Homo sapiens: one gene and its partner. The protein of the gene in region 2 purifies or fractionates together with the protein of the main gene of each other region. This does not show direct contact. Each region holds a gene or a part of one and is shown on either strand. Other genes may lie near its edges.

Region 1 (3,500 bases), on a different chromosome or scaffold from region 2:
GCCTCTCAAGTAGTTGGGACTACAGGCACGTGCCACTATGCCCAGCTAATTTTTGTATTTTTAGTAGAGACGAGGTTTCACCGTGTTGGCCAAAATGATTTCGATCTCTTGACTCTTGCTCCACCTGCCTCGGCCTCCCGAAGTGCTGGGATTGCAGGCGTGAGCCACCGTGCCCTGCCGCGCCTTGCAATTTTTTTATTAGCTCTTTTAGAAAGAATTATTTTCAAACTAGAGCATGAGTGCTAAACTTGGATACTTTTCAGTAGCCTACTTCAATTGCCCAATTTTAAGGAAGAAGAAATCCAAATTCTGATAAAACTAGAGTTGAAACCCAGAACCTCTGATTCTTTGTCCTGTCCTTTCTGCCTCTTTAATACATGCTAAAAGTGGAGATTCTTAAAATCAAAATTAAGCAAACCGTAACAGTTAAGATTTATAGTCTGAAATCTTTTGCTTCCCAGAGTGTCCAATTGGAGTATTAGTTTTTCTTTTTCTTTCTTTTTTAAATATGTATGTCAGAAGACTTGTGTTTTCATGAGTGACAGCAAATTCATTTCTCTGGTCTTACAGGACTTCTGTTATTAAACAGAATTATGTATTTATAAAAATGGTTCTGCCTTGATAAATATTTCTAAGCAGCAGTAAAATGTCATACATTTCACAAATGTTTTGTGTTTCACTTGAATTGCATTTTAAGTAACTTTCAATATCTAGATGTCCTTAACTCCTTATTTTTATAAGATTTTTTTCTTTTAAATCAGTAGGCTTGTAACAAACAAACCAACCTTGGCTTACGGATTCACAATTGTTGCTGGGTGTCTCTGAACTGTGCTGTCCTGCTTGGTTGGCAAAATCTTTTGAAGCCTTCATGGATGGCTTTTTCCCATTCCCCCTCTATCCCCACCCACCCTTAAAATTAAGGCCTGTCTCTTCTGTGTAGCTATTGGACTATCATTAGACTTCGTTTATATAAACAAAGTCATTATTCAAGTTCGAGTTACATTCTGACTGAGTTACATTCTGACAATGCCTGGATGAGGTGATTTAGGTGTTCTTGGGCATTGGTAACATTGTATCATTGATAATCATGTCATCCTGTGTAGCCTCTTCTTTTGGACATCCAAACATCTTTTACTTCTTTTCTTCCCTATCCTTATTATCATTGTCCTCTGCTAAGAGCTGCCAGTTGGCATCCTCCTTTAACTTGGTCTTTGTAATGCTCCTCACGGCACTTGGTCTAGGTCAAGTACTGTACACTTATGTTTATTTAGAATTTAGACCAGAAAGATCAGGCAGCCAGCGGTTCTGCCGCCTCCCCATGAGTGTTGTATAGTGGTAGTTGATGTTTTTACTAATACTTGCCATTTACTGAATACTTCATATATCCGAGATACTGTGTTAAGGGCTTTACATATATTATTTCATTTAATCCTTTTTTTAAATAAACTTTTTTTGAAGTATACTTTACATACAAAAAAAGTACCTATATACAGTGTGGAGTTTGATGAATTTTGACAAATGCATACAAACATGAAAACAAGATATAGAACATTTCCAACATTGGAGAAGTTCCCTTGTGCTCCTTTGCAACCAGTCCCTTTCCACTCCTAGTCCAAGCAATTGTTGATTTGTTTTGTTTTACTGTAGATTAGGTTGCCTTTTCTACAATTTCATATAAATGGAATCATACATACTTTTTTATGTCTAGCTTCCTTTGTTCCGTACGATGCATTTAAGATTCATCCTTGTTGTATGAGTCTGTTCCTTTATATTGCTGAGTAGTATTCCAGTGAATTTGGTATGCTATCTTTATGCATCTCTCTGATTTTTTAGTTGTTTCCAGTTTTTGATTATCATTTAATTCTGGTAACAGCCCTGTGAGGTATTACCATTTCTGTTTTATAGAGGAAAAGCTGAAAGGTCTTGCTGCTAGTGCAGGGCTGAAATTCAGACCCTTGACATTGGTGTCACAAAAGCATATACTCATAGTCACCATGCTGCATATTCAGGGTTCTTACAGAATCCAGAGTTATCTTCTGAACTGTGATTAAGTTCATTATAGCTTTTGTAAATAATATTTTACTTTTTATAACTTTGGAAACCTTAGAAGTTGCCAATTTGGTTAGACTGTTAAATTATTAAGAAGTGTAGTTTTTTCATTACTTAATTTGGTCTGACTTTTGCTCTTGGGTTTTCAGATTTTCTTTCTTTTTTCTTAGCAGTTTGTGAACTTTGCTTTCCCCTGTATTGGCACCATTATATTTATCCCACTGTTTATGTTATCTTAAGCATATAAGAAATTTGTGGGAAACTGTCCCATTTTATTGTTTAGATTTTTCTCCTGCTAGGATATAATGTCTCTAAGGGCAAAGATCTTTGCTTATTTTGCTCATTAATATATTCCAAGTGCCTGGAACTGTGCCTGGCACATAATACATGCTTGCAAAATGTTTGTTGAGTGTTGAATGGGCTTCTATTTCTTTTTCTGTTCCAAGAGCTATATTTGTGTCTTTTCTCCCCCTCCCCCAATATCTATCTATATATAAAATTTATTAGCAGCATTTGATAAAGTCTTCTTCCAGGAATTCTTTTTGGTTGCTTACTTTGGTACTATGTATATCTAAATATTATATCCTCTTTTCCTCTTGAGTCAGAGGCCTCTTTAAATATAGAATCTTTTCACACGCCGATATGGTTGTAATGATAAATCTTTATCTTGTTTTAAGTAACTCTCATAGGTGTGTGTAGATTTCTGTGAGATACTTTTTCATACCAGAATGTACCAGTCTACATGAATCATGTGATTCACCTTATTTTTAAAGAAGATCCATGACTAATTTGAATTGCCATATCTCCTCTCATATGTTGTCTAATTTTTGCCGTTATGTTAATATTTTAAGTGATATTTTGAATTGATACAGTAGGAATATAATCCTGATTGATACCTTTTCAGAATTACTATTGGCACTAATATATTTCATGTTTCATAATGGAGAGGGTATAAAATGCAGTTTTGTAAGTTGATACTGTAAAAACATGAAGCATTTCTTCTTCTAACAAAAGCAAATGACATGCCAGGTATTATCTAAATGCCAGTTGTTATCTAAATAAGATATTGGGAAACTAAAGTGTTCTGTATAGGAAAAGTATGTGTAAGGCCGTGTACTGAAATGTTAGGAATAAAAGAAGATGCAGACTTCAATTTCATAGAACTTAAATGAACCATTAAGTCCAAAAACATGTATCTGGAAAGTTAGCAAAAACTACAGGGTTAAGACAACCTGACAGACATCAAAAGAGCATTAGAGAAAGTTAAATGTTAGTGTAGTTGAGAGGCATGAGGTGATTCATTGCATGTCATAAAGAAGGCTTCTTGGAGAGAGGCGTAACAATTTGGGCTTTCAGGTTTGGTTGTATGGTGTATGTTGAAGCAAATATTTGAGCATAAGAATATCTAAAGGAAGTTCTGAGGATGCTGAGTAGACCAAAGGAAGGTTCTT
Region 2 (2,426 bases):
CATAACCTTGATCAGGTAAAGCCTCTGTGTCTTCACCAGGTCAACAGCTAGAACTTCCTCCTTGTTTCTCAGGTCAGAGCTTGGTTATTCCAAGTGAGTGGTGAGACAGACAGAATGGGGGGTGATGGGGAGTAAGAGGCTGGGAAGAAGGGGCCTCAGGGTTGGGGAGGGCACTGAAGAGCCCATGTGTGATGAAGTTCAGAGTCCCTTCTGGCTTTAAGAGACTGACCTCACTGGACACAAGGAGCGAGGGACAACATGCTTATGTCTATCTGCTGACAGCATTTTGGATACCTGCCTGCAAGGCTCAGGGGACAACTGGGGACATTAGCCACTGGTCCTTGCCCCAGTACTCGTATCATGGCACACGTTACCAGATACATCAGCACCAGCGGCTCACTAACCTTCTGCCCATGGCTCCAGGCAGGAGCACGTAAGTCAGATTTGGGGAAAGCTGAGTGGCACTTAGAACCCTGGCCAAGGAGCAAACTGGGGGGCTGAGAACCTACCCCAGATAAGCAGGGCAGTCAGCCTGAACGGAGAGAACCCCGGGAGAGTGCCACTGTTATTTCTGGCTGGTTCCCCTAGAGGCTGGGCTGCACAGCCAGGGTTGAGAATCACAGTAGCCTGGCCCATCTGCCTGTGAGGCACCGATAGTGGGTCCACTACCCCCTGGCCGCAGCACACATACTCACTGAACTCGATCAGCAGCTTGCCGTAGCCCCGGCGCTGGTAGGGAGGCAGGGTTAGGATGCAGGCCACATTGTAGTCTTCCGTTGATTCTTTCTCCTGGAGAAGGGGGACAGGTGAGTGTCAGGGAAGGGATCTGGCTCAGGACAGGGCACAGGGACAGCTTGGGCAGGCACTGACCTTGGAGAAGTAGCCCACGATGTGGAAGCCCTTACAGTCATACTCTGTCATGACGTAGAAGAGGAAAGGGTCTGTGTCATAGTACAGTGTCTTATGGTCAAGGAAACACTTGGCCAAAAGACACAGGTTCTGGGAATAACTCTGCAAGAGAAAAGGCTTGTCACCACTCTGGGTATCCCGCCTTGAGCCTGGCCAGTGGTTCAGGGTCAACCAGGAGCTTCACTGTTCGTGCTATGCCCCAGGCTGCTAGGTGATGAGTGTTCTTCCCTGGCTGGGCCTGACCCACTCCACCAGCCCGCAGCTTAGGCAGGGCTGCTCCTCAGTGTTGAAAAGCCTGTGTGCCAGATGTGTGATGGTGTCTGAGTGCCTCCCTGCTCAGTCAGGCAAGTTTCCCGCCTTGCTCCGCACACCTCCATTCTAAGCCTGACCAGGAGAGACCACTGCCTTTTAATGTTTTTTAACAGCAGCCAACGAACTAATGTGTCCAAAGTGAGACTCTGACCACGGCTCCTCAAACTAATGTGTCCAAAGTGAGACTCTGACCACTGACTCCCTATCTAACAGTCTTGGGAGTCTAGCTGTTAAAAAACCTAACATTCTACATCCACAGTCACACCTCCTGGGAACTGATCTGCTACTCTACAACAGAGTTAAGGAATTCTGGAATTTAACAAAATAACTGCCTTAGGGTTTACCCCAGCAAAATTATGAATCCTGCTGCTTTACTTCTGCACACGATTTCTCCTGCATTTCAGACATTGTGGGTTTTTTTTTTTTTTTTTTGACACAGGGTCTCACTCCTGTCACCCAGGCTGGAGTGCAGTGGTGCAATCATGCAATCGTGGGTCACTGCAGCCTTGACTTCCCAGGCTCAGGTGATTCTCCCAACTCAGCCTCCCGAGTACCTGGGGGTTTCTCCATGTTGCCCAGGCTGGTCTCGAAATTCTGGGCTCAAGTGATTGGCCCACCTTGGCCTCCCAAAGTGCTGGGGTTACAGGTATGAGCCACTGTGCCCAGCCAGAAATTGCTTTTTATTTATTTATTTTTTTTACACGAAGTCTTGCTGTCTCCCAGGCTGGAATGCAGTGGTGCAATCTCGGCTCACTGCAAACTCTGCCTCCTGGGTTCACGCCATTCTCCTGCCTCAGCCTCCCGAGTAGCTGGGATTACAGGCACCCGCCACCACGCCCAGCTAATTTTTTGTACTTTTTAGTAGAGACAGGGTTTAACCGTGTTAGCCAGGATGGTCTCGATCTCCTGACCTTGTGATCCGCCCGCCTCAGCCTCCCAAAGTGCTGGGATTACAGGTGTGAGCCACCGTGCCCAGCCCAGGAATTGCTTTTTAACCGCCTGCTGCTGGGTACTGCCACTTGGATGCCCAGGTCCACATTAATAATTACAAAATGGTGGTTAACACAGCATCTTCATCACCTAAGCTCTGTCCCATGTACGAGCCTTCCCTCATCCTCCCTTTTCTGCCTCCCAACCAGAATGATCTCTGCCTTTCACAAAGACCACCTTTGTGCATCCATGCCTACTCTTCAGAACACCACTGC

What was found.
Region 1: the proteins of KAT5 (region 2) and EPC2 purify together in Homo sapiens (affinity purification with mass spectrometry; 5 studies listed by BioGRID and IntAct, with this or other methods). This does not show direct contact.

The regions. Positions count from the first base shown.
Region 1 is NC_000002.12:148,647,751-148,651,250, forward strand, and holds part of EPC2 (enhancer of polycomb homolog 2), read left to right. Parts: intron 1-3,500. UniProt on the Homo sapiens protein: May play a role in transcription or DNA repair.
Region 2 is NC_000011.10:65,715,252-65,717,677, reverse strand, and holds part of KAT5 (histone acetyltransferase KAT5), read right to left. Parts: intron 1,012-2,426; coding exon 871-1,011; intron 790-870; coding exon 696-789; coding exon of another isoform or gene 692-695; intron 6-691; exon of another isoform or gene 1-5. UniProt on the Homo sapiens protein: Catalytic subunit of the NuA4 histone acetyltransferase complex, a multiprotein complex involved in transcriptional activation of select genes principally by acetylation of nucleosomal histones H2A and H4.